Linked DNA regions of Homo sapiens. The protein of the gene in region 1 interacts with the protein of each later gene in a pairwise test. Each region holds a gene or a part of one and is shown on either strand. Other genes may lie near its edges. The genes, in order: PTPN3, DIP2A, TFAP4 and VWA2.

What was found.
Region 2: the proteins of PTPN3 (region 1) and DIP2A interact in binary tests that used the Homo sapiens proteins (3 or more experiments, as listed by UniProt).
Region 3: the proteins of PTPN3 (region 1) and TFAP4 interact in binary tests that used the Homo sapiens proteins (3 or more experiments, as listed by UniProt).
Region 4: the proteins of PTPN3 (region 1) and VWA2 interact in binary tests that used the Homo sapiens proteins (3 or more experiments, as listed by UniProt).

Annotation. Positions count from the first base shown.
Region 1 is NC_000009.12:109,376,302-109,383,324, forward strand, and holds part of PTPN3 (tyrosine-protein phosphatase non-receptor type 3), read right to left. Parts: intron 6,147-7,023; coding exon 6,001-6,146; intron 5,487-6,000; coding exon 5,351-5,486; intron 3,333-5,350; coding exon 3,255-3,332; 3' UTR 1-3,254.
Region 2 is NC_000021.9:46,454,535-46,461,907, forward strand, and holds the start of DIP2A (disco-interacting protein 2 homolog A), read left to right. Parts: upstream 1-4,356; 5' UTR 4,357-4,597; coding exon 4,598-4,688; intron 4,689-7,373. UniProt on the Homo sapiens protein: Catalyzes the de novo synthesis of acetyl-CoA in vitro. Promotes acetylation of CTTN, possibly by providing the acetyl donor, ensuring correct dendritic spine morphology and synaptic transmission.
Region 3 is NC_000016.10:4,263,013-4,270,035, reverse strand, and holds part of TFAP4 (transcription factor AP-4), read left to right. Parts: intron 1-1,831; exon of another isoform or gene 1,832-1,988; intron 1,989-3,105; exon of another isoform or gene 3,106-3,534; coding exon of another isoform or gene 3,535-3,584; exon of another isoform or gene 3,585-4,345; intron 4,346-5,153; exon of another isoform or gene 5,154-5,686; coding exon of another isoform or gene 5,687-6,369; intron 6,370-7,023.
Region 4 is NC_000010.11:114,277,233-114,284,255, forward strand, and holds part of VWA2 (von Willebrand factor A domain-containing protein 2 precursor), read left to right. Parts: intron 1-681; coding exon 682-815; intron 816-1,486; coding exon 1,487-1,619; intron 1,620-3,492; exon of another isoform or gene 3,493-4,392; coding exon of another isoform or gene 4,393-4,539; intron 4,540-5,280; exon of another isoform or gene 5,281-5,283; coding exon 5,284-5,339; intron 5,340-7,023. Other genes in the region: AFAP1L2 (actin filament-associated protein 1-like 2), read right to left, coding at 4,393-4,539.

The DNA.
Region 1 (7,023 bases):
GTTGCCTCTGGAGGATGAAGAGGGCTTTTTCGCTTGCCCTCAAATGCTCATTTCTGAGGTACCCCCCCCAGAAAAAGGTCAGGTAGCAACACAGCAGCAATAGTATCCACACTAATCTAAAAGCATATTTAAATATGAATTACTGTGGTAGGAAACGAAAGACAACTGTGTGATCCAACCACTGCCCCCTAACCAAAGTTGCATTTTTTTCTTCTGGAAAGTCAAAACACCAAGTGCAGGTTCTAGAGGGTGACACCAGCAGGGATCTCTCATCTTGATTAAATTGGCACATCAACATGTTTAATTAGATCTTTCAGAAAGTGCCAGAACATAGGATGTAAATGTCTTCTCCATTCATATGCAGCCAAATTTCCCAGGCAAAATACTTATCCTGATTCTGATGTAGTTCTTCACTTAGGACTAAAAAAAGGCTTAAGTATAATTGCTTAAGTGTATAAGGTGGTGAAACAGGAATCTTGAGCTACGGATTTTAAGTGGTAATAGCTACAGGATTTACTTGAATTGTTTGCTCTTTTAGGTAATTCTCTTGTCTTGTTCTTCCCAGTATTTCCTGGATTTGTTCCTGGCAACCTCGCTGGGTCTGAACTGCTGGCCTGCCCAGTGGCAGAAGACTGCTTGCAACCTTTGGTAGGCTTTTTAGAAATTTATGTGACCGTAATGGCTGCATTTCTGCAACCATAATAAACAATTTGTTTTTGGAAAAAAGCAGTAAAACACCCATCTCCAAAGACATTTAGACTACTTTGCAAGCATTTTGCACACAGGGTGATGATGCATTTTTACCAAACAGTAATAACTTGCTAAATATCCTAATGGCATTTAAATTTTTGCCAGCGTTCCCTCCATCCCCCTTTCTTGGAGCTTGCTGAATTTTTGTGAGTCCAGATTATTTTGTGCTCTTGTTCTCTCTCTTCTAGAAGAGCATTTTCTATTTTCCTCTCATAAAAACCCAGTTAGGCTGGGCACAGTGGCTCACGCCTATAATCCCAACAGTTTTGGAGGCTGAGGTGGGAAGATCACTTGAGGCCAGGAGTTTGAGACCAGCCTAGGCAACACATCAAGATCCTGTCTCTACACACACACACACACACACACACACACACACACACACACACACACACACACACACACACACAAGCCAGGTGAGGTGGCATGTGCCTATAGTCCCGGCTACTCAGGAGGCTGAGGTGCGAGGATTGCTTGAGCCCAGGAATTTGAGGCTGCAGTGAACAATGATCATGCCACTGTACTCCAGCCTGGGCGACAGTGAGACCCTGTCTCTAAAAAGAGAGACAAAAATCCAGTGGATTCTATTTTTGACTGATGTGTTTTTGGGCTAATCACTGATAACTAAACTTTTCTAAGTAACTCACCCACAGCAGTGTCTGTTGCTGTTCTAGCCGATAAAAAGTCACATGAATAGCGTGATCTTATTCAATCCTCATGTTCCAACTAAAGTCCTAAGTATTGTTTCTATTTTACAGATAATGAAAGAGAGGTAGAGCTTCTAAGCAACCAGGCCCGCAAGTAGTTAGTGCTGAGTGGGCGTAGGAACTGAATCCCCTGCCCCTTAGCTGCAAACTTTCTGGTGGTTTCTTGTTTTCAATATGGGGTTATGGTACTGTGTGACATCTCCCTCCCACCTCTGCCATTTAGCAGTAAAATATCCATGTGGAAAAGAAACAAAGTATGCAAGTAAATATGCTAGCTCTAGAGATAAAGAATCTCCCATATAGGTCTTCATCCGTCTTGCTACCAGCAAACTATTCAATTGGCACCGAATTTGCTGAATATCAAAATGGCTTCATTTATGTGCATTATAATATGAAAACATCTTTTCTATAAATACCATTAAGAACCTGGCTTTACTTCCTCTTCTGAGTACATAAAAACCGCTGTTCAAAAATACCACATTAAATGTTTACACAATTTATTTTCCTTAAATAATAATTTGCTACAATCCTGTCACAAATTTAAAAAAATTTAACACGGTATTCACAAAGGCAGAATTCTTTAGGACAATCAAAATGATGGTGTTCTTAGAATAAATTAACATCAGATTGTGTTTATATTCAGATAGTCTGATCCTCTCCTTTGAAATGCAATGGAGACCATTGTGACTGGGGGTGAATGCACACATTTGTTCTTCCATACAGAGACTCATTCTTTATATATACTCAACGGTAATTTGAATCGTTAGGAATCCTGAGAAACACTCACCCCTGGGCACACACATGTACACAGCCCCACGGCCAACCCTCCAGAAGCTGGGTTTCCCATGGTTCAATTACTAGAAGCTCTTTTCTCAGAAGGCCAAACATTCGGAATATTTAGATGACACTGTCCCATCTCCCCTTGGGAAAATCATAAGGTTTCAAGTGGAGGAGCTTGAAGTAGCAGCAATACATGTAGGAGATTCAGTAGTCGGTGATTCCAGTCCTGGGTGCTGAGTGTGCAGTAGGAGGCAAGCAGAGGCAAGAGACACACCTGCTTCTACAACTAAGCCACAAGATGACCAGAACACACTGAGAGTACCAGTTCTCAGAGCCTCAGCTGAAAATTCACCTGAATGCACATTACTAATCCAGGTTAGGCACCAAGAGGGAACCTGAAGAGGGACACAATTCTCAGAAACATGAATATTGGAAGTCGCTGGGAGATGGGACAAAGGGAGGGAGGGCAGAGAGGTGTTGCTCAGCCTTCAGCCTGACCCCCAGTGCCCTGCCATCTAGTACATACGTCAGGGTTTCCTTAGCATCAGGGCGGGTGAATCTGAATTGTTCCAGCTCCACCTAGAAGCACAGAAAGCTCAGCCCTTACAGTCTGACACACAGAAACAAACAAAACATCCAAATGACCCAAGATAACCACACCATCTTGTTGCTGGGAGGACAACAGCTCTGTGGGTGTCCGGTCTCAATTGCTCCAGGATGCCGACAGGGGTGTGTGTGGTGATGTTAGGGAAGAAGGCATTAGGACAGGCCCCAAACTGAGATCCTTTTTGTATCTTTCCATAGAAATACAGGCCTAAATGATGCCATAATTGCATGCTTATCTACACCAGTTCCTATGTACACGATATCTTTTCTATAGAAGTTTAAAGTGCCTGGGTTCAGAGGTGCCCATTCCTTTCCCACAGCTACTGGTTCCTCTTGCTGCTTCCAGAGAGGTCTGTCCTCCTCTTTCAAGGAGGATGCCCTTGGGAAAGAGGAATGAACTTTTTCACAGTTGTCTTAACTAGGATCCAGCATTTGGACTAAACCTTCTTCATACACACGAAGAATCGCTTCACACACAAACTTGTACTGGCTCTGGAAAAGAAAAAAATGCTGTCAAGTCCTGTAGCTCCAGGAAATGCTGCCTACCACACCCTGTACCGGTGGGTCTTTTGCAGCATTTGTAAATATTCCCTGAGCGCCAACTCTGGGCCACAGGCCAGGTACACCTGTGAAGCCCTAGTTCCTATATGATGCGGGGAGGGGGCACTCCCAGAGAGGGGTGGGCAAAGTGTCATGGAGACATGACAGAGGGAGAAACTGGCGGTCTGGGGGAGGTGGGAAGGAGCAAAAGTCCCTGCGGGACAGCCCTTCTTGTAAGTGGAAGTGTGGAAGCCTCAGTAAGAGCCCATTTTGAGAAACGGGGTCAGGGAGCCTGCTCCTGGACTCAACACCTAGGCATGTGGAGGAGGAGGGGCTGCACAGGTGGGCTGGGACCTGGTTGTGGGCACCTTGTGTTGGGGTAAGGAGTCTGGATTGTGTTTTACAAAGCAGAGCCACTGAAAGATGCTCTGCAGGATACAGTTATTTATCTTAGCAAATACCTAAGAAACATATTGTAGCAAAGTATACAGGGGGGATAAAAGCATTTAGACTGAGCTTCTCCAGCTAGGAAAATCTATCTATCTATCTATCTATCTATCTATCTATCTATCTATCTATCTATCTAGTTTTCAAGACAGAGTCCTGTTCTGTCACTCAGGCTGGAGTGCAGTGGCGTAATCTTGGCTCACTGCAACCTCCACCTCCTGGGTTCAAGCGATTCTCCTGCCTCAGCCTCCCAAGTAGCTGGGACTATAGGCACATGCCACCATGCCTGGCTAATTTTTGTATTTTCATTAGAGACGGGGTTTCACTATGTTAGCCAGGCTGGTCTTGAACTACTGATCTCAAGTGATCCACCTTCCTTAGCCTGCTGAAGTGCTGGGATTATAGGCGTGAGCCACCGTGCCCAGCTTCCAGCTGGGAAAATCTACCAGGATGATGGACTTTTTTCTTTTTAACCAGCCACGAGGTCTTCCATACCAAAAAACAGGGCAGAGAATGGCCCTAATAACATAAGCTGATTTTTTTTCTCTTAACAAGATTTTCTGGGTACAAACTAATATAAAACTACCAAAGCTTAAAAATTTATTAGGGAAATCTTATAAACTTTGTCCACAGCCTGTGAAGAGACAGAGCTGGTTGGAACATATAGTTCCTGCTCCTTTCTTTGCTAACTCCTCATGTACCCTGGGGGTTTTTACCAGAGAAGACACTTCTCCAGGAAGCCTTCCTAGACTTTCCAAATCCTGCTTTAGATACTCTTCCACCATGTTCTCAGACAGCCCTGAACTTCCCTCACCGCTGCTGACACTTAGCATAGACTAATCCAGTTCTCCTACTAGATACAAGCCTGTCTCTGCACCCTTCTTTGTCAAATGAATGAATGAATGAATGTGGGATGGTCCCCATTTTGCACAGGGAAGCTGAAGCTTGGAGAGAGGTTCAGGACTTATGCAAAGGTTGTTCCATTTGTGGTGGGACCTTAATCATGCTCTTTCCACACCGCTTCACTGCCCCGCTTGCAGTTCCAGGGGAAATCCCCAAGAGTTATCCCCTAGAGTTCCTCTTGAGGACAAGAGGATGTTGCACATGACCCTACTTTGAGCTCTGGCCTGCCCGTGGAGGACACAGCAGGTACTCAGGCACCACACGGGTGGAACAGAGCTCAAAGTAGGGTCATATGCAACATCCACTGAGCCAAAAGGAGTACCCAGGTCTAGGTGGGTCGGTGCGGGGGAGGATAATGGACAAATGATTGTTCAACGATACAGAATGCAACCAGGGCTGCTCCCTGACAGACGGGCTGGCAGGAAATAAACCACAGAGGCAGCAGAGCTCAGAGGTGAGATGGGTGTGGGCTGTAGCCACTGACAAGCTCTGTGACCTTGGGCAAGTGATTCAGTCCCCCTGAGCTGCAGTCTGTTGACTCACAAAGCCCTTCTCTCAGGCCTGCCTGGTGTAAGTGCTCAGAAAGTGCCAGCCACCGTAATTACTGGATTTCTACTCACTGATGTCTGCACCATCATGGCGCGCTGGTCTCGCATTTTTCGGACAATATCCAGTGGGTAAATGGGCAGGTTCCTCTCAGTTAGGCACATGGCTGTTTCCATAGTGACCAACACACCGGTTCGACCTATTCCAGCACTGGAGAGGGGAGAGAAGACAGACTTGGGATTTGTCTGAGTAGCCTTTCTGCATGGCCCAGCGAGCAGTTCCCCGCTGACTCCAAAGGGGCTTTCCTCCCTTGGCCTTCGAGAAGACAAAACGCACACTCACGGCGTGCTCTCAAACAGGCTGAGACAGCCTGTCCTCACACATCTGAGACTGGGGGCTAGCAGGCAGTGGAAAGAGGGCCACTGTGAAGTGCCAAACCTATTCCCTTTCTCACTCACACCTATGACGAAGGTCAGCTGACAGAAGGACAGGAGAAAGGGTGTGTGAGGGGATTTTCTTCTTCAGTTCTGTGCTACATTCACAAAGTTAGGATTTCATAAAATTCCAAAAAACTTTTGAAATGGTGAAGAACCACAGTCAACAGAGGTTTGTAAGGGCACACGACTTTGTGGGATGTAGGGTGGGTCTGGCGCCTGCCAATTGTCTCCAGGCCTTTTCCGACAGGGAAAGGATTCCAAACCTAACAAAACAGCAAGCGCCATACCTGCAGTGAACTAGGACGGGCTCGCTGTCCACTCTCAGAGACCTCACATAGTTTACAAATTCCAGAAAGTCGGAGGAGTCATCGGGCACACCGTGGTCAGGCCATGCGACGTACTGGAGATGTGTCACTGTGTGTTCTTCCCCGGTCTGTGGGAGATGCAGTGGCCTTGGTGAGCCCATCCAGGTGGTGAGCATGAGGACCCAGCCCCAACCCAGACACAGGGTGGCCCTGTCTCCTGATGCTTTCTCCCTCTGCGCACAGCCCTGCTGTGGCCCCTAGCAATTCCTCCCCTCCTTCCCCAAAGATCCCCATCCCCTCTCAGGCTCAGCTGTGGGCCTGTCCTGCAGGGCTGCCTTCCTTGATCACTTCTGCCCAGTGATCTCCTCTGCCCAGTGATCTCCTCCATTTGCTGCTATGGTACTTGCCATTAGAGGCCACACATGCTGACTGTTTTTTTTTTTTTTTTTCAACTGTGGCAAAATATACTAACATGAGGCTTACCACTGTAACCACATTTAAATGTACAGTTCAGCGGCATTGAGAATACTCGCAATGTTGTAGAGCCATCAGCACTACCTATTTCCAGAACTTTAAAATATCCCGCAAACATAAACCCTGCACCCATTATGCCATATGGCAAAATGTCCATAGATGTCCTTTCTCCTCCTTCCCCAAGCCCTTGGCAACCACCGTTCTACTTTCTGTCTCTATGAATTGGACGACTCTAGGCACTTCACAGAAGTTGAATCCTACAGTATGTGTCTTTCTATGTCTGGCTTATTTCACTTAGGATAATATGCTCAAGGTTCCCCAGTGTTGTAGCAGGGGTCAGAATCTCCTTCCTTTTAAAGGCTGAATCATATTCCATTGTATGGACAGACCACGTGCTGTTTATCCATTCCTCCATCGATGGACACTGGGCTGTTTGCACCTCGTGCCTGTTGTGACTAGGGCCACTGTGAACTCTGGGCCCTGGCTCTTTGATGGGCAGTCTTGCGCACTTACTGACACGCTTGCCAGGTG
Region 2 (7,373 bases), on another chromosome or scaffold:
GTGTCCACAAGTCTTCCAAATGTTTGGCTAATCACTTTTCTCCAGGATGTAGTTATCAAAAGAAATTGCTATCAGACCCTTTGGAAAAGTACCTGGGGATTCATTTCTGTTGTACTTGTACTGTTATAGGTCCTTCTTCCTGGTGTTTGGCCACCTCTCAAGTAATGTTTCCATTTCTGAAAACTGGCTCAGTTCCAGAAGCTGGGCATGGAATCCTGATTTTTTAAAACTGGGACAAGCATCTTTATTTATTTTTTTCAATTGAGACAGTCTTGCCACATTGCCCGGGCTGGAGTGCAGTGGTGCAACCACAGCTCACTGTAATCTTGAACTCCTGGGCTCAAGTGATCCTCCCACCTTAGCTTCCCCAAATGCTGAGATTACAGGCACAGGCCACCGTGCCTGGATGGATTTTTTTTTTTTTTTTTTTTTTTGCCAGCTGAGTAGTACCCTTCTTAGCTGCCCACCTGTTTTGCCTCCAGGGATGCCATGTTTATTGACCAGTTCTATAACCATACAAGTGAGGTCCCCTTGGCTGCCACTCAGACCCTGCTGGCTGCTATAATTGCAATCCTCTGACTTCTGCCAGCTAAGTGTTGCCTTTGGCTTCTTGGGTTTTTTTCTTTGGTCCCCACTATGTCCCAGAATGGCCTCTTTTGTCTTAGGATCCTATCATCCCCAGTGCTATCACCCAGCCAAGTTCTGGAACAGCCTTTCTATTGTCATTCTTGCCTACAGAGATGAGCCATCACTGAATATTTTAGTGACATCAGTGCCCCTTTCATCATCCTATGTCTAATGATCTTTATAAATGACGTGTTATTTACACCTTCATGTGGAATATGATCGTCTCAAATGTCTTCTAGATGCACGGAGTATATAAATTTCAACATGCCCACACCCCTGAACCTTTTACTCCCTTCCACCACTGTCTGCCATAGCAATTTTGCCATTTCAATTTTGCTTACCATGGCCCATGGCTTTTTCCAAGTGTGGTGTTTTAAAAATATACTGGCAAATTTTTTGATATTCTTCCCTTTAGAAGATGAAGCCTAATTCCTCTCCTTTTGAATATGGGTAATTTAGTGACTCATTTCTTCCAAATAGGAAGTAGCCGAAGTGATGGTATGCAACTTCTGAGGCTGGTTCACAAAAAGGATACAGCTTTCTTTTGTCCTTTGTCTTTAGATTGCCCTTGGAATCCAGCCATCATATTGTGAGAAAGCCTCGGCCACAGGGACCGGCCGTGTAGGGGTGTGCTGGCTGACATCCCCAATCTGGGCTGCAGCCAATCTCCAGTATCAGCTGTCAGACATTCGAGCAGATGAACCTTCACTCATTCCAACCTCTAGCCTCTGAACTGCTCCAGCTGAGGCCTCAGACACTGTGGAAGAGAGATAACCAATCCCCACTATGTCTGACCCACAGTAACCTAGAGAGATCACCGATCCCCACTATGTCTGACCCACAGTAACCTAGAGATAAGAAATGATTCTTGTTTTAAGCCACGAAGTGTGGAGTAATTTGTTAGGCAGCAGTAGCTATACCGCCATTCTAGGAGCCATCCTTGCAGGAAGTCTGCAGCCACTCTTTGCCAAGGTGTTAAATCACGTATTTCAATAAACACATCTATGCAAGTTTACATTCCAGCTCCCTTCATCAAGCACCCTCATAATCCAGCCCCAAACTTTCCCAGCTCCTGTCAGTACATGTTGGCTGGGTGGTACAGCTTGTTATGGGCTGAAGTGTGTCCCTCTCAAAAGATGCTGAAGCCCTAACCCCTGGTCAATGTGAATGTGACATTATTTGGAAATGGGTCTTTGTAGACAAGTTAAGATGCGCTCATTAGAGTGGGCCCTAATCAGTATGACTGGTGTCCTTCTAAAAAGAGGCCCATGTCGAATGACCTTTGTCAATGATGTTACTTATGCCTTCGTCTGGAGAGACACACACAACAAGATCACCATGTGAATATAAAGGCAGGACTGGGACAATGCCTCTATAAGCCAAGGAACCAAAGACTGCCAGCAAACCACCAGAAGCTGGGAGAGAGGCATGAGACAGATTCTCCCTCCCAGCCCCAGAAGGAACCAACCCTGTGAAAACTTTGATCTCAGACTTCTAGCCTCCAGAACTGGGAGACAATAAATGTCTGCCCAGTTTGTTACTGAAGCCCCAGCAAACTAATAACGCAGTTCTTCTGAGGGGGAGGGAGCTATATTCTCTTTTCTATCTCATTGTTTCCAGCTGAATAATGCAAAAGAAACAACCATAATTATACATCTACTGAGCAGTAAGTGGAGGGAGGAGGAGTAGTGTCAGGTTAATAGGAGAGGTGAGCCACCCCGGCAGGCTTCAGGTTCAAGGCAGGCCAGGTGTGATGGCTCACTGGAGCCTAGAAGTTTGAGACAAGCCCGGGCAACATAGCAAGACCTTGCCTCTACAAGTAATAAAAAATGTATCCAGGTGTGGTGACACATACCTGTAGTCCCAGTTACTTAGGAGGCTCAGGTGGGAGGATCGTTTGAGCCCAGGAAGTTGAGGCTACAGTGGGCCATGATCCAGCAACTGCACTCCAGCCTGGGCAACAGAGTGAGACACTGTCTACGAAAAAAAGGTTTAAGGCAGTTTGGGGAGTCAAAACCTTTGAAGGCATCTACCCAGGTATCTCCAACCCATGTATGACGGGCTTTTCTTTTCTTTCTTTTTTTTTTTTAAAAGACAGAGTCTCACTCCTGTTGCCCAGGCTGGAGTGCAGTCACAGCTCACTACAGCCCTGACTTCCAGGGCTCAGGTGATCCACCCACCTTAGCCTCCCAAGCAGCTGGGACCACAGCCGTGGCCACCATGCCCGGCTAATTTTTTGTGTTTTCAGTAGAGATGGGGTTTTGTCATGTTGCCCAAGCTGGTCTTGAACTCCTGAACTCAAGCAATCTTCCCGCCTTGGCCTCCCAAAGTGCTGGGATTACAGGTGTGAGCCACTGTGCCCAGCCTCATCTTTTCTTAGCAGGGATCCAAACTTAGTGGAAGAGTATTGCCTTGTTTGGGTGTTTTGCTATTTTTGGAGTTCAGTCAAACAGGGATGTTAATTCCTGGGCCTGGTTCTTGTCTTTGACCTGCTGCAGTAAATGAAGCTTCTCTATATGTAACGGGACAGATTCACTGGCTTACAACTGTTTGTTGCTTGCCTTCAGCTGACCACTATTCTTAAGAGTCTCGGTTGGCACTAAGCAATAGCTATCCAATCCCCCTTTCCTTCCTTTTATCTACTACGTTCACCATATATGAAATGTCTGATACTTCACCCACTCGTGGATTCCATTTCACTAGTTCACCCTCCTACTTCACCACTGGTGAGTGATGCAGCCTCGAATCCCATCTTCTCACCAGCTTTAATGCTGCAGAATGGTTTCTCCAGAAGCAGACGCTGCGACTGAGTTTGGGGTACGAGGATGTTGACATGGTATCAACACCCGTGAAAGGAAGGGGAAGGAAGCAGGACTGGGCGGAGGAAGAAGGGTATGTAAGTCCCGCAAAGCTTTGGCCAACCTCGTGTGGAGCTCTGGAACGAGAACTGCTGAAGTTCGCCAGACTCGGGCACTCCTGCCTAACTCAGTAACAGGCGGGCGGCATCGGGACACGGACACGCTGCTCAGGCCCCGCCACAGCCACCCTCGCACCGTCAGACACACTCCCACACATTCGGGGAGCAGGGCCTTCAGGACGCCGGCGGCGCCCTCTCAGTCTAGCTCCGCCAGGCCCCTCGTCCGTCCTCCCGCCCTCCAAGGTCACCTCGCGGTCCGACATGGCTGCTGGGGCTCCTTCGGGGCCAACGATGTGTACTTCTAGGGCTGTTTTTTAAAGCAAAGGAGTGAACACAGGTAAAGGCACGAGAAAGGTGCCTCGACGCCACCACGGACTGCGCAGCGTTCGCGATCAGCACAGCCCGAAAGGGAAGACAGCGGTCAACGCGGACGCGCCATGGCGCGGGGACCAAGGAGGAGCCCCGAGAGGGGCGGGGCTGGCCGGAGGGCCGCGCGCGGGGCCACCAGCGGCGCCTAGGGGTCAGCGCCAACGCCCACGGGTTGGTCATCCCCACTTAGGCGCCTCGGGCCGCAACTAAGCAGCCTGCCCGCCTCAAGCCCGCCACCCTCAAGCAGGCCCAGCGCAGAGCCTGTCGGGAGCGGCGCTCTCCCGCCTCTCCCAATGGGAGCCCGGAGCGGCATCGACGCGTCTTCGGGGCCAATGGAAGCGAGGCTCTGGTGTTGCTGGGCGGGGCCGGGAGGGCTGCGCGGGCCCGAGACCCACTGCGCACGCGCGCTCGCTACCCGCCCTTCCCGCCGCGCACGCGCTCCCGTGTAGGGCCGGCCGGGCGCTCAGGAGCGCGCGGGGCAGCGGCGGCGCGGCGGAGCCATCCGCGCTCGTGCCCGCGCGGGTGCGTTGCTGTCCTGGCCGCGCCCCTGTCCCGCCGCCTCCCGCTCCTCGCCTGGCGGATGTAGGTTGTTGGCCTGAGGGGAGCTACGTAGCCGAGGTTTGCGCTGCCGCCGCCAGGCCCGGTCCGGTTCCAGCCTCTGCCCGGACGCTAGCCGGCCTGGCCATGGCTGACCGCGGGTGCCCGCTGGAGGCGGCGCCGCTGCCTGCCGAGGTGCGGGAGAGCCTGGCTGAGCTGGAGCTGGAGCTGTCGGAAGGTGAGCCGGACCCCGCCCTCAACCCCCGCGACCCGCCCTCAGCCCGGTCCCCCGCGCAGCCCCTCACTCCGGGACCCCCGCGCGGCCCCTCACTCCAGGACCCCCGCCCTTCACCCCCGGGACCCCCACGCGGCCTCGCCCCTGGGACCTCTGCCCCTCAACGGGACCCCGGTTCCTCTACCCTGGAACCCGCCCCTCGCCCCGGAGACACCGTTCCTCAACCCTAGGACCCCGCCCCTCATGTGGGACCCCAGCACGACCCCTCGCCCCGAGACCCCGGCCCCTTACCCCCGGGAACTCCCGCCCCTCACCCCCGGGACCTCCTGCCCCTCACCCCCGGAACCCCGCGCGGCCCCTCACCCCGGGGACCCCGCCCTTCACCCTGGGAGCCCCGCGCTGCCCCTCCGGACTCCCGACCCTCAGCCCCGGGACACCCGCGCGGCCCCTCAAACCAGGGACCACTGCCCCGCCTCTCATACAAGGACCCCTCCCCCATACAAGGACTCCTCCCCCCAGGCCCTTCACACCTGGGACCCTTACTCCTCACCCCGGGACGCCTGCCAAACTTCTGGAGACCTTTCCCTATCCCCAGCTGCTCCCCCAATGGGATCCGACCCCAAGGACTGGCTTTGACTAGGTCGTTTGGACAGGTGTGAGAATCTTGAGAGGAATGACCACTTTTGCCCCAAGCTGTGAGCCCCGCTTTTCTCAAGGCTGTAGGTCTGGGCTTGGTCTGGGCTTCACCAGGATGACTGCGCCCGTTGTCCGCAGGCAGCTACTTCCCTTGGAGCTGGGAGCCCTTGCCGCGCGCCTCATACTCTAGGAGCTGCACCCTGTGCCTCATTTTATTATCTATAAAGTGGGGTTATACCAGCACTTTCCATTTTGGATTGTTATGAGGCTAAAATACCTTAATATATGCAAAGCACATAACACTTAGGAGTTGTTAGCCCCCTCATGGAATTTTTTAAAGTAAAAAAAAAAAGTCGTATAAATGGTTGGTTGATAAAAATAGACTGGAGTAATCTGGCTTCAGAGGTGGTGGGTGGCATTTCCCATTTGGATGTTATCCCTTTCAAGGCCTGTGTCCTGATATTCCTTTTGGCTGTCTTTGGGAAAGAGTTAAGTTCTTCTCCAGTGTCAGAAAGGACTTGCAGTCCTTGAAGAAAAGCATGTAATTGATTCTTACTCTGTTTTTGAGATCTAAATGCATTTTCAGCTTTTAGAATCCATTTTTTAAATAATCTTATTATCCTTAATTTAAGTTTCAGATTGATAAGATTTTGCTGGGTCTGGGGTAGTTATTTCTCAAAACATCTAAATAATATGCACTAGCATACAGTAAGTCATTTAATCCTTGCCAACCTTAGGGAGGTAGATGCTGTTGTGATCTTGTTTTACATATAATACAACATGTACTTGCAACTATTTTGAATTCAGCATTCAGATTTTTAACAATGTTGTGACATGTGGCACATTTTTTTTTTTTGAGACGGAGTCTTGCTCTGTTGCCCAGGCTGGAGTGCAATGGCGTGATCTCGGCTCACTGCAACCTCTGCCTCCCAGGTAGAAATGATTCTTCTGCCTCAGCCTCCCGAGTAGCTGGGATTACAGGGGCTTGCCACCACGCCCAGCTAATTTTCGTATTTTTAGTAGAGGCAAGGTATCACCATGTTGACCAGGCTGGTCTCAAACTCCTGACCTCAGGTGGTCCGCCTGCCTCGGCCTCCCAAAGTGCTGGGATTACAGGCATGAGCCACCGTGCCTGGCTTGTGGCACATTTTTAAAAATGGAAGTACAGGCTGAGTACACAGTGGCTCATGCTTGTAATCCCAACACTTTGGGAGGCCACGTTGGCTTGGAGACGGGAGTTCAGAACAGCTTGGGTAACATAGCAAGACTCTGTCTCTACAGTATTAAAAAAAATTAGCTGGGCATGGTGGTGTGCACCTGTAGTCCCAGCTACTTGGGAGGCTGAGGCAGGAGGATCACCTGAGCACTGGAGCACTCCAGCCTGGGCAACAGAGCGAGAACCTGTCTCTTCTCACCAAAAAAAAAAAAAAAAAAAAAAGGAAAGAAATGGATGGATTTGAGAATTCTTGGTGATTAGATGCTCCTAGGCAGTCTGACAAACTTAAATTAGGAATGGGTTTGACAGGATCTACTGTACTGCATTTGTTAAGGCTCTTTAGGGAAAATCACATATACGCAGTTTAGATTCTGTGCATTTCAAACATATTTTTGCGTATTGCTCCTAATTTCTGCTCCAATGTATTCATTATTCCCTCAATTTTTTGTGTTGTAGTTGTGTTTGAGTGCTTGCTAGGCATTGACAATTGAATCCTTTCCTCAAAGAACTTTATAATTTGTGCGACAGAACACAAGTACTTAAATGAAAGAAATGTTTCCTATCTGTTGGATCCATTTATGCTATTGTCATCTTAGAGATATGTAGGGGATGTATAGGTAAGTAAAGGTATAAGATTATGTAACATGGAGAGGAACCTCGAAAAATAGCTTAAGCTGAGAAAGGGGGTAAACAAAAAAAGTATTGAGCCCAGAAATGGTGGCTTAGGCCTGTTATGTTTGCATTTTGGGAGGCCCAGGCAGGAGGATCACTTGAGCCCAGGAGTTTGAGACCAGCCTAGGCAACATAGGGAGACCCTGCCTCTTCCAAAAAAAAAA
Region 3 (7,023 bases), on another chromosome or scaffold:
TTTTTTTATTTTTAGTAGAGATGGGGTTTCACCATAGTGGTTGGCCAGGCTGGTCTCGAACCCCTGACCTCAGGTGATCTGCCCACCTTGGCCTCCCAAAGTACTAGGATTACAGGCATGAGCAACTGCGCCCAGCCACTGAGTCTTAAAAGCAGGTATATGGGCAGGTATATGGTAGTCTCCATCCATATCTTGTGTTTTGTTTGTTTGTTTGTTTGTTTGTTTTGAGATGGACTCTCACTCTGTCGCACAGGCTGGAGTGCAGTGGCGCAATCTCGGCTCACTGCAACTTCTGCCTCCGGGGTTCAAGCAATTTTCCTGCCTCAGCCTCCTAAGTAACTGGGACTACAGGCCCGCTCCACCATGGCCGGCTAATTTTTGTATTTTTAGTACAGACGGGGTTTCACCATTTTGGCCAGGATGGTCTCGATCTCCTGATCTTATGATCTGCCCGCCTCGTCCTCCCAAAGTGCTGTGATTTCAGACGTGAGCCACCGTGCCCGGACTCTCCATCTGTATCTTTTTTTTTTTTTTTTTTTTTTTGAGGCAGAGTCTCGCTCTGTCGCCCAGGCTGGAGTGCAGTGGTGCAATCTCGGCTCACTGCAAGCTCGGCCTCCCGGGTTCACGCCATTCTCCTGCCTCAGCCTCCCGAGTAGCTGGGACTACAGGCGCCCACCACCACGCCCGGCTAATTTTTTGTATTTTAATTAGAGACAGGCTTTCACTGTGTTAGCCAGGATGGTCTCGATCTCCTGACCTCGTGATCTGCCCACCTCGGCCTCCCAAAGTGTTGGGATTACAGGCGTGAGCCACCGCGCCTGGCCTCTGTCTGTATCATAAAGCTCCTAGGCCTGGCTCGGTGGCTCAAGCCTGTAATCCCAGTGCTTTGGAAGGCCAAGGGGAAAAAATCATTTGAGCCCAGGAGTTCGAGACCAGCCTGGGCAACATAGCAAGACCCCACCTCTACAAAAAATAAAAAAATTAGCCCGGCATGGTGGCATGTGCCTGTAGTCTCAGCTCCTTGGGAGGCTGAGGCAGGAGGATGGCTTGAGCCTGGGAATTGGAGATTGCAGTGAGCTATGATCATAGCACTGCACTCTAGCCTGGGTAACAGAGACCCTGTCTCTTAAAAAAAACAGTAAGACTGGGTGCAGTGGCTCACTCTTGTAACCCTAGCACTTTGGGAGACCAAGGCGGGAGGATCACTTGAGCCCAGGAGTTCGAGACCAGCCTCAGCAACATGACGAAACCCTGTTTCTACTAAAAATACAAAAAACTAGCCGGGTGTGAATGGTGTGCACTTATACTCCCAGTTGCTTGGGAGGCTGAGGAAGGAGGACGACCTGGGCCCAAGAAGTTGAGGCTACAGTAAGCCGAGATCATGCCATTGCACTCCAGCTTGGGTGACGGGAGTGAGACCCTGCCTCTAAATAAATAAATAAAAATAAATTAAAAAAATAATAAAACTTAAAAAGCTCCCATAAGAAGGAGTTCAAGAAAATTGAAGGCTTTGGAGTGTTTATTGGGTCCCTGATTTATTTATGAAGCAACAACATTCTGCCGGGACTGAGGATACAGCCATGAACAGGATGTGACTCCTGTCCTCAGCAGCTCACAGCCTTGTGGTCTTAAAAGGTCTTGTAGACCCCCTAAGAGTTTCATGGGTTGTCCTGGACACCTGGGTGCAAACTAACTCTTGGGCCTCGACCTCCCGAGTAGCTGGGATTACAGGCACGTCCCACGACACCCGGCTAATTTTTGTATTTTTAGTAGAGAGGGGGTTTCACCATCTTGGCCTGGCTGGTCTGAAACTTCTGACCTCAGGTGATCTGCCCACCTTAGCCTCCCAAAGTGCTGGGATTACAGGCATGAGCCACCGTGCCTGGCCTTTCTTGATCTCTTTTAAACTTCACCATGACCCTGTGAAGTGAAGCAGTGTTTCCATATTTTACAGACGGAGGAAACCGAGGCTTGGTGTTGCACAGCTAGTAAGTGGCAAGGCTGGACTTTTTCACTTGAGCCCAGTGCAGGGTTCCCACTGATGGGCTGGAGGAGCTTTGGGGAAGGGAGGGAGGCAGGGATGTTTCTGATGGCAACAGCCTGGGCATGGTGTGTTCTGGGACCGAGGGGAAGGGCAGCAGACTGGCCAGGTCAGAGTACAGAGTATGGGTGAGTAGTGTAGAAGCAGCGGGGATGGAGCATGGATGAGAACCTCGGGCTGATTAGGTTAGAGAAGGATGAGTGCCTTAGTGCTTTTTTGGGTTTGGGAGAATCCCGTGTGGACTTTCCCACGTTGACTGTGTAGATGTTAAGTGACCCTGAGGTATGTGAGTGACTTCAGGGCAGTGTGAAATGAAAGTTCTCAGTGGCCGGTTTGAGGCTGGAGCTGGGCAGGCAGGTGTAGAGGGATTGGGGGTACTTGACTTTGGCCTGGGCAGGAGGGATAGGTACCTGGCAGGGTTCTAGACTTGAAGGGCATGCCCCATGCCTCCAAGTGTCTGGTTGGGACGCCAGCGTCAGTCTCAGCAGATTCTGTGGGTGCTGTGGTGGTAGGTGTGGCGGCTCTTGCCTTAGCATCCAAGGCTGGTGCCCAAATTTTGTTCCTTGGCCATTGGCTGCTCAGTGACCTTATTCCTAAATCTAGGGCAGCCCCTGTTTGGACCCAGGAGGCTGGCTTGCAAGAAGCAAGAGAGCCTTGGTGTGGCTGGGCATGGTGGCTCATGCCTATAATCCCAGCACTTTGGGAGGCCGAGGCGGATGGATCATTTGAGGTCAACAGTTCGAGACCAGCCTGACCAACATGGTGAAACCCCATCTCTACTAAAAATACAAAAATTAGCCGGGCGTGGTGGTGGGTCCCTGTAATCCCAGCTACTCGGGAGGCTGAGGCATGAGAATTGCTTGAACTCGGGAGGTAGAAATTGCAGTGAGCTGAGATTGTGCTACTGCACTCTAGCCTGGGCAACAGAGCGAGACTCCATCTCAACCCCCCCTCCGCCCCCCATAATTAGCCAGGCTTGGTGGATCACGCCTGTAATCCCAGTTATTTGGGAGGCTGAGGCATGAAAATCGCTTGAACCCGGGAGGTAGAGATTGCAGTGAGCCAAGATTGTGCCACTGCACTCCAGCCTGGGCAATAGAGCGAGACTCAGTCAAAAGAAAAAAGAGAACCTCGGTGTTGGTGGACTTGGGTCACCTTTGATTTTCACCTGGAGGAGTCTGAAGTGGCCAGAGAGAGGATAGTGGACCTTTACTGTGTGTGTAGGACGTTTACAGACCTTAACCGTAAATGCAAAACCCCAGAAAGAGCTATCAGAAACTTTCAGGCATTTGCAGAAAAATCCACTTTATTCAGTGCAGTATCACCTGGAAATTTCAATCAACCATCCTTCATCAACAGGAACCCCTGGTTGGTCAGCCATCAGAAGCCCTGGTTGGTCAGCATTCCACCAATAAGAATTCCTGGTTAGCGGCACTCCACCAATCACAACCCCTGGTTAGCTCCTATTCCACCAATCAGAAGCCTTGGTTAGAATGCATTCTATTAAAGGACTCTGTCGGCGGGTACTTCCAGGGCAATTTAGGTGAGTTATATTTGAGGGTCTTGGTGGCAGATTCAGGTCCCACGAGGAACTGTACCTTTTGGGGGGAAATTTGCTTTCTTGGATTTAAGAAAGTGCTTAACCTAAGTTAAGCACTAGGTTAGCCAGCAGCTGGTTTCTGAGCCAGGAGACTGGGCTGATGGCTTTGGAGAGGAAGGAGGCAGGATGGAGCATTGGAGAAGCTGGGCCGGCAGATTCTGATGCAGAGGAGGAGGCGACACAGGCCCCTGATCCCAGCCCCAGCTCCTCTTCCTTGTGAGAACTTCCGGCTGGGGTTTTCGGGACTGGGGTCTGGTGGTCTCCTTTGGTCTCCCAGTTAGTGGGCTGCCTTGCGGGGAAGGGACGGAAGAGGCTGAGGGTCAGCTCCCAAGAGCAGAGGAGTTGGTGGGACTTGGGCCGGGAGGTGCAGAAGGGTGCATCTGGCTGCACCCTGCCCTGCCCAGCTGCTGGGTGTGACCTTGGGCAAGTCACCTCACTTGTGGGCTTGTGTTCAGAGGGGCAGGGGTGATGGCTGAGCTTGCAGTCACACACCCGCTTCTGATAAGTGGCGGGCTGTGTGAACTAGCAGTCAGTAGAGGCGCTTCAGTGGGTTGGCATCTGCAGGTTGCTGTTGTGCCAGGTCTGGCTACTTGACCTTGGGATCATCACCTTCCTTCCCACGACCCTGCATTGCTTGCTCACTGTAATCTCGGCCACCCCACTGGGTTTTGTGAGAATCAGGCAGGGAAAAATGTCAACGAGGTCTGTGAATAATAAAAAGAGTTACACGATTACAGCGATTTCCGAATGCCTGGTCCTTTTTTTTTTTTTTTTTTTTTTTTTTTGAGACAAGGTCTCACTCTGTTGCCCAGGCTGGAGTACAGTGACATGATCACAGCTCACTGCAGCCTCAACCTCCTGGGCTTATTACATCCTCCCACCTTAGCCTCCTCAGTTGCTGGAACAATAGGGACACTCCACCATGCCTGGCTGATTAATTTTTTCTAGTGATGGGGTCTCACTATGTTGCCCAGGCTGGTCTTGAACTCTGGGGCTCAAGCGATCCTCCTACTTTGGCCTCCCAAAGTGCTAGGATTATAGGTGTGAGCCACTGTGCCCGGCCTAGTCTTCTCTTTTACAGGGATAACTGTCACCTGCCAGTTGGGGCATCTGGCTCTGTGGGCCGGTCAGAGCTCATTCTGCCCTATGGCCTGACACCTGCTCTGGGGTCAGGGTTCACGCCCAGCGCTTGCTGCAGCTGGACCCTACCCAAACCTCTGTGCCCCCCTCTTTACATGGGAGTCTTCAGGCCACCTGACTCAGGAACATTGTGACAATTCAGTGAGAAAATTCTCGCCAAAAACTTAAAAAAAAAAATGTATCCCTCTGTTGTGGACCCTCCAGGAGGGCCAGCTCTCAGGTGGCCCAAGGCTGGACTTGGTGCTCCCTTTTCACCCCCTAGTCAGCTCTGGCTTTTGGGCATTGCCAGGAGGGACCCAGGGGCTGGGTGGGCAGGGGTCTCTCCCCACATCTCTCCTGAGGGGGATGGTGATGCCTCAAGATTGCACTTACCTTGTGTTGTGGCTTCCTATGGACATCTCTTCCCACCTCTTACCTCCAAAGAGCCCCAGCTTTAAGCCACCCACTGCAGAGCAGTCCTGGTCCCCTTGGCCTGCTGGCCTCTCAGACATGGTATGGTCTGAGTTTGTGCCAGGCCTGGGAGCCTGGACTCCGCCCTAAGGCTGGGCCACACACAGCCGTGCAGCAGGCCTGCTCCAGTCCCCCTATCACCTCCACTTCAGGGCAGGGGAACCGGGAGAAGTGAGAGCACTGACATCCAGCTGACCGACCCTAAAACCATCCCCTCTCTGCCCTGCACCCTAAAGTCTCATGGAAAGTGGGGGGCCCGGGCCCCTTTTGCAGTGCGGACATTTCAAGACCCTGTAAGAGACTTGTACCCTGGGTGCAGGCCCTGGGCCTTTGGGTCCTGATGGAGGAGGGGGCTTGGCTTGATGAGGACGGAAGGAGGCTGATTTGCATCCAGACTTCCGGCGTTGGACACCTCTCTATTGGGAGAGGAAGCCGAGGCCGGGGAAGGGGCAGCGATGCGTCCAGGGTCCCACAGGGAGCCAAGGCTGGACAGATGGGCAGGCTGGGTGGGGCCAGGAAGGCCACGGCTGTTTCCAGCTGTTGCAGATGTGCTGCCTCCGGGGTCCGTGCAAACTCCTTTCCGCCTGCAGGCTGGCGAAGGGGCCAGGGCACACAGCAGGGGAGTTAGACTTGGCAGCCCCTTGACCCCAGACTGCCTTCATCAATGGAGCAGGAGCTGCCCAGAACCCTTTTCCTGTTCTCCCACATTCAGGGGCATGAGCCCCCTTGGCCCAGTCCTGGAACAGGGCACCCCGGGAGGGCCCCTCAGGAAGAGGCCGGGGCTGCGGCTTCGGGTGGGGCCGGCAGCCTCTGCTGAGAGCCCAGCATCTGGAAGCCATCAGGCCAGGGGCGGGGGGAGTTGCAGGGGAGGTCCAGGGAGGGGGACATGCCTCCTCCAGGCCACACACAAGCCCAACCCTCGGGAGCGTGGCCTTGGGCCCACAACCGCTGCCTCTGCACCCTGGCCCGCAGCCCCGCCCCCTGGCGCACACGCCCCGCCCTCGTCCGAAGCCACGCCCCCAGCCAGCAGCCACGCCCTCTTCCCCCAGGCTGCCTTCTCACCGCACTGGCCACTGCTCCTGCAAGGGTCAGCAGCGCTCCCCACAGCATGGTGGGAGCCTCGCTTCTCCGGCGCAGGGTGGGTCTATCTCTTGGAGTGGGTGGGCTGTGGGGAGCCGTGTCCCCAGGGGTTGTTGGCTTGGTGTCTTTTTGGGGAGTGAGTGGTACTTGTCTTCTGTGAAGTCTTAGCCTAGCGGGGCTGGGGCTTGTGGTGGGAGGCGTGGCCGTGAGGGTAGGAAGGGAGTGGGGACGTCTTCCTCAGTCCTGGGGTGGCAAAGCCTGAGACGCTGAAGAGGCGCTCCAGGTGCCTAGCAAATCACTCAGAAGTGTTCCAGGAGCGGGGACAGCGTCCCTGAATGTCGTCTGCATCCCGCGTGCATCAGAATCACACCACGCACGTTTCTGGGCCCCACCGGGCCTGCTAGTCAGACGCTGGGGCCAGCACCCGTCGTCTGCATAGTTTCTAAGCTCTTGGATGTTTTGATGCTCAGACACACTGGGAATTCTGTTCCGGAGGAGAGACTGCTCCCTGTGAGGAAAGCCAGGGAGGGGATGGGTTTTTGTTGTTGTTGTTGAGACAAGGTCTTGCTCTGTTGCCCAGACTGAAGTGCAGTGGCGTGATCATAGCTCACTGCAGCCTCCAACTCCTGGGCTCAAGCGATCCTCCCACTTCAGCCTCCTGAGTAGCTGGGACTACAGGCATGCACCACCACACCTGGCTAATTTTATTTTT
Region 4 (7,023 bases), on another chromosome or scaffold:
GATTGCAGTGGCACAATCTCGGCTCACTGCATCCTCCACCTCCCAGGTTCAAGTGGCTCTCCTGTCTCAGCCTCCCAAGTAGCTGGAACTACAGGCACCCACCACCACACCCAGCTAATTTTTGTATTTTTAGTAGAGATGGGGTTTCATCATGTTAGCTAGGCTGGTCCCAAACTCCTGACCTCAAGTGATCCACCCACCTCGGCCTCCCAAAGTGCTGGGATTAGGCGTGAGCCACCACACCCCCCCTCCGACTGTGTGTCTTCTTAAAATGAGGTTTCTCAACATCGCCTAACCCTTTCTTCATGTCCTAGTGTCACCATCTGTACATCATTTTCCTCCTGGCACAAACAGCGCTGCCCTATGGCTATCGAGGTGTGCTGGCCGCTTCCTCTAGATGGCCTCCTATTGCTGGCCTTGGAGTTCTTACGTCCATTGTTTATCATTCCTCAGTCTTTTTTTCTGTTACCAGCTATGCTTGCTTGTTCTTTGCTTGCTGTCACCTCGAACCACTTTCTTTCATTTCCATTCCGGTTAACTGTTTTCCTCACCAGCTATGGGTCTGACAAAACCAGACACTAAATCTGTGCTGCCATCCACAAGGAACCCACGGCCTAGAAGATGAGGGGGCAGGAGGAGGGTGGGTATAGGACCACAAGCTGTTACAACCCCTTGGCACAGGTGGGAGGAGCTGCATGCACTGGCCAGCGAGCCTAGAGGGCAGCACGTGCTGTTGGCTGAGCAGGTGGAGGATGCCACCAACGGCCTCTTCAGCACCCTCAGCAGCTCGGCCATCTGCTCCAGCGCCACGCCAGGTAAGATCTTCCAGCCTGGAGGGAGTGGAAGTGCCATGTGGGGTCGGGGAGGGCTCCCTGAGGCAAGAGGTCAGGACCCAGGAGCCTCCCAAGGATGGAGGGCAGGCAAGAGAAACAGAGACCGGCAGCCTCCACCCTGGATGCTCTGCGTCTCCCTGTGCCCTGCCCTGTGGGTTTCCCAGCTGGGAGCCCCGAGCTTGTCTTCATGGAGGTAGAGGGGCCCAGGGTTTGAGACCCAAATGTAGTAGGTTCCCTGTCCCCTGCTCAAGAGACAGAGCCAAGTCTCCTCCCCCTGCCTTGGACCACACAGAGGAGCACAAGGAGGCTTTGTGCTTGGTGCGAGATCCCTGCATTCTAGTCGTCCTTGTCAGGGTCCACCCAGGAGCCACATTGATGACGTTATGTGGAATGTACATGTGTGCCCATTACGCAAAAGCTGTGTGGGGTGGGGCCCAGCAGAGGAGATGCTCAGAGACTGGATGCCCCGCTGAACAGGCAGAGCAGGGCCCTTCACCCAGAGATATGCCCTGACCTGAGAGAGCAGAAAGTGGCCAGCCTGGAAGTGTGGTGGAACCTCCCAGGAGCGGGAGCAGCTGCTGGGGAAGCGTGTGTGGCAGGAGGAGGTGGAACCCTGTCTCCTCCGTGGGTGTGGGTGTGTGTTGTGGACACAGACTGCAGGGTCGAGGCTCACCCCTGTGAGCACAGGACGCTGGAGATGGTCCGGGAGTTCGCTGGCAATGCCCCATGCTGGAGAGGATCGCGGCGGACCCTTGCGGTGCTGGCTGCACACTGTCCCTTCTACAGGTTTGTCTGCGCGGTCTGGGCTCGGCCTGGGTGGAGATGAAGGCCCCCACCCCTGAGCTGCGGGGAGGATAGTACTTTGGGGCCCTGCCATGGAGATTGTGACAGGGATCGAAGGAGACCTGGGAGGGAGCCAGGGACGTAGCCATGGGAGAACAGGGAGAGGCACAGCTACTCAGTGTCAGCATCCCTTAACACACAGCCCAGGTACCCAGGGTGAGCACTGGTGGCAGGGTCACAGGCATTCTGGAAGGCTGGTGAGTGAGCCAAGTGCTGGCCCTGCAGGGCGGTGGTCTGCACTTGGGATATTGATTTGGTAATTTGGTTCCTCTGAGCACCAGTTTCCACATTATGGGGGCTGAGTGAGGCAAGAGGATAGAGATCCTCAGATGAATTCCAGTCAGGGAGGCTATGGGATGCTGGGTTCTTTGGGATTGGAGCCCAGGCACCCAAGAGCACCTGCTGCCCGTCTGCCCACCCATCCCTCCCAAACACTCCCCACACTGTTCCTGGGCACTTTCTTTAGACTACCTGCCATTCAGCACCTCTGTCCGGAGACTGGTGACCCTGCCCCTCTCCCTTTCTGGGGGGCCGGGGCAGTGTTTGAATCAGCTGCATCTTTACCCATTGGTCCTCCCCCAGCGATGAGCTCACAGCACAGCACACAGCAGTGAAATGGATTGGCTGAGAAGCCTTAGGGCTGTGCTGGGCTGATGGAGAATCCAAAGACTGTTTCTCTGGGAAAGGCCAGCCCCCTACATAAGGGTCAGAGGAGATGAGGTCTCATGCCACTCTGGGGCCACCAGAGGCTCTCCTCAGAACCCAACCTCTCAAGTGAAAGGAGGAGTTGATTCGTTCCTTGGTGGCCACTTTCTAAGTGCCTGCTCAGAGCCAGGCAATGTGCAATAAGAAGACAGTACAGTTGCTGCCCCCAAGGAATCATGGTTTAGAGGAGGGCATTGGAAAAGGAGACCAGCGGCCACCCTGAGGCATCCTAGGTGTTGGGATGGAGTCTGTCCTCTCTGGGATGTCACAGAGAAGGGGCTGCTCGAGCAGTTTTGCAAGATTTGGAACTGTGGCAGTGGGCAAGGCGCTCAGAGCCGGGAGCGGCTGGAAGAGGCTGGTGGCTGCAGTGTATACTTCCTGGGCCTTGCATTCAGACTCTGCTCTCAGGCTGCTGAATTTTTAATCTTAGCAGAACCACTAGGGAGCGGTGAACTTACCACTGCATGTTTCTATGTTTGAAAAGGGGTGTGATAATAATCATACCTGCCCTACAGGTTTGTTGAGAACAGGCGGTGATTTAATAGGTAGATGTGTTAATATTGCAGGCTCCTAGAATGAAGCATTTGGGAGCTCTTCACCCATTTCTTCACTCAAGAAATACCCACTGAGGGCCTCCTGTGCTCCTGGCACTCACCCAGGTCCTGGGAAATCAGCACCAGCATCTCAGAAACACATCTACCCTCACAAGCTGACGCTCCAGTAATGGGAGGCAGTCATTCCAAAATGAATACAGAAAATAAACTGTTCAGTGGTAGCAGGTGCTGTGGAGGAACACAGCAGCAAGATGGGGATGCGGTGGGGTAGGCGGGGGGTTGGGGCAAGGTCACAGTTTGAAATGGAGTGGCCAGGGAGGGCCTTGCAGAGCATGTGGCATTTGTGTCCAGACCTGAGGGAGGTGGGGGGCAAACTGTGTGCAGGTCCCTGCAAAGCCCTGTTGGTAGTGTCTGCTCCATAAATGCTGATTCCCAGGGAAGCCTAAATCAGGGAGGGGGAAGGGCCCAGGGATCTTTCTGGGCTAGGACTTGTGGCTTTATGAGGTCACTAGGATAGACATGGAAGAGAAGACGATTTCTCTTGAATGAGCTGGCAGTTTGGCAAACTTTGTTTTTATTATTATTTTTTTGAGACAAGGTCTTGCTCTGTCACCAGGATGGAGTACAGTGGCAGAATCATGGCTTGGTGCAGCCTCAAACTTCCAGGCTCAAGTGATCCTCCCATTTCAGCCTCCTAAGTAGTTGGGACTACAGACACGCACCACCGTGGCCGGCTAATTTTTAAGATTTTTTTTTATAGATGGGGTCTCACTATGTTGCCCGGGCTGGTCTTAAACTCCTGAGCTCAATTCCTGCCTCCGCCTTTCATAGTGCTGGGATTACAGGCGTGAGCTACCACGCCCAGCCTTGGCAACCTTTATTTCAGCAACTCCATGAGCTCTGAATTGACTTGGCGTGTACTCCATTTTACCCCAGGGAAGACCCTGCCCTAGAGGAGCACCTGATTGGCCTGCCCCTGTGTGGGCAGCCCAGGGTGGGATCTTGTTGGAAGAAGCCTTATTTGGAGAACTTTAGGGAATGTTTCTGCCAAGGCCCAAGAGTCTCCTCAGGTGAGGCCATCCCAGGAGCTGCTGCCAACCCAGAGTGGGGCTTTCTGCCCCCAGATGAGGAACCGCTCCTGTGACAGCAGGGCACATGGCCCCGGAGACGCAGGAGAGGCGAGGGTGAGGCCCACAGGGTAGAGTGGGGGGATTTGGAGTCATGGTCAGGGTTTGGATCCCAGCTCTGCTGTGTTCCGGTAATTATGTGACCTCAGGGGCCCTAAGTGAGCCCTCAGAACCCATTTCCCTATCTGGAACATGGAGGGAACCATCTCTTCAGGTAGCTGTGGTTCATGGAACACCAGCAGGTGGAAGCCACCCAAGGAATGGTGGCTGCTGTGTTATCACAGAACGTTAGTTCTCCAGCAGACCTGAGAAGTCATTGAGTCCAGTGGCTTACATGTCTTGACCTGCAGAGCCTCGTGTGGACACTTGTTGTGTGGACCAGATAGTAGCAGCACACCTGGGGTGGAGGGGCGGGGCTGGGGCACTGCGGGAGGCCTGGAGCCTTGCTCCTTCAGTGCTCTTCTCTCCCCATCGAAGCTTTAAGGAATACAGTTGAAAAGTGAAGATAGAATTACTATACAAAGAGGAAAGTGAAGACCAGAGGAGGAAAGTAACATGTCTGTGGTCACACAGCCAAAATCCAGTTGCCCAGTTCCCAATATTTCTCTCCCTACTGCATCGTAAGCCTCAGAAAGTAACTTATAATAAAAAGCTGTTGCTACAGTTTGGGGTTTTGCATGTGGATGTCCCTAATTTCAAATGTGATAGCCAGCTTATGTTACCTTTTTTTTTTGAGATGGAGTCTTACTCTGTTACCCAGGCTGGAGTGCAGTTGTGCAATCTCGGCTCACCGCAACCTCTGCCTCCTGGGTTCAAGCATTTCTGCCTCAGCCTGCTAAGCTGGGATTACAGGCACATGCCACCACGCCCAGCTAATTTTTGTATTTTTAGTAGAGACGGGGCTTCACCATGTAGGCCAGGCTAGTCTCAAACTCCTGACCTCAAGTGATTTGCCTACCTTGGCCTCCCAAAGTGTTGGGATTGCAGGCGTGAGCCACCACTCCCAGCCTATTTTTTTTAATTGTCACTGGATAGTTTGAAACATTCCCTACTCTATGTGCAGAGAAAAGTTAGGGTAGAATCAAGAAACAAAACCAGGAAGTCTTTCTTACTTCTGCATTGGAATCTTCTATCAGCTTTTGGTGTTGTAAATCATCTTCTGTTTTCTGCCCTCCCCTTACACCTCTGATCTGTCTATAATTCTGTTTCCTTGGATTGTAGCTGGAAGAGAGTGTTCCTAACCCACCCTGCCACCTGCTACAGGACCACCTGCCCAGGTATGGTCTGTCTCTTGGATTTACAGGTTCTTTCAGGGCCCTGGGCCCAGGCTGCTTTGTAAAGTGGCTTTTACAATCCTGGGACAGAGGGTGGGGTTGTGACTGGCTCCAGGGCAGAGGGATGGGGCACTTGGGGGGCAGAGGAGAGTGTGCTCTTGACTCCCTCAATGGTGTTTGCTCATTAAGAATGGAGTGGCGGCTTTGGGATTACTCCCCTGAACCAGTGTTGTGTGCATTGGTGAGAGGCAGAGAGGCAGGCACCGAGCACCAGCTTTGCAGACATCCTCAAAGCCAGCACCAAACTCAGGGCAAGATATCTGAGTGATTTCCTCCTCTATAAAACATAGTGGTTTGTCCGATGTCTGGAAGCCCATTTCCCTCCTCCATGTGAAAGGGGGTCATCGTATATGAGGTCCTAGTGAAGATTCAGTAGATAATGCCCATGGAAGTAATCCCTCAGCTGTAAAATCCCAAATTAACGTGAGGAATCATCGATGCCATTATGCATCATTCAGCATGGTTCACCAGTGTGCCCTCACTATCCCTCACTTGGGGTGCTAGTGACCCCACTGACCTGGGAGCTTGAAATTGCCCTTCAATGTGTAGGTGTCAGTCCTGGGGTGGATTTGTTACTCCCGATGAGTAGCCTGTCTCCCGGAAGCAATGCCGGCAGTTAGACACACAGGCAGGGCAGCGAGCAGTTAGACACACAGGCAGGCAGGGCAGCGAGCAGTTAGACACACAGGCAGGGTAGCGAGCAGTTAGACACACAGGCAGGGTAGCGAGCAGTTAGACACACAGGCAGGGTAGCGAGCAGTTAGACACACAGGCAGGGTAGCGAGTGTCCCTATTTGGGGTTAGGTGATCCCTTCAGTATGTTCACAAGGTTTACAGTTCCAGCACCACGGCCTCTGAAGCACAGGAGAATCTGAGAGTGGAGCTGTTTCTGCTCAGAAATTAGGGTTTGAGGACTTCCGGTTTGGAAACTAGAGTGAAATGGCTTTCAGTCCCAGCTTTGCCTCTTACCAATGATCTGACCTGGGGCATGTGACTTCTATTCATTGAGCTTCAGCTTCCTCATCTGTCATATAGGGTTTTTATAGTTCCTACCTAAGGTTGTGACAATGAAATGGGACCATGCGTGTATTGTGCTTAGCACAGTCCCTGGCACATAATAGATGCTCAGTTAAAGGCCACTGTCGTCGATCTCAGTGAGCCCCCAGCTATTTCCACAGTCTTCTGGCTGATACAACAGCAGCCCCAGCGAAGTGCCTAGACTTAGCCTCAATCTTTTCTGCCTTTGAAAAGTCTATATTTTAATTACAATGATGTGGCCATCAAGAAAGAGATTAATATTTGTAAGCAAAAAGGACAAGAAAATGCCAGTCCCAGTTGTGACCACACTCAGCTGCTTATCCAGCTCTTGGAATACATGATCACATGAAGACCTTGTTTGTTTTCTGTAACCCTGGGAAGGAGGTCATGTGGTTTTAGCTGCACTTTGTAATAATTGATAAGGAAAGCAATGAGATGCTCAGGCATGGACCACAGGGAATCATAGATCAGACGCTTCAGAATGGGCCACATTTTGACACAGGCTGTGGTTTCCCATGTAAACTTTCAGCTTTGAAGAGGCCTTGCTCATAATTTGCATCTCACATCCAAAAGTCAATACTGTCATTAC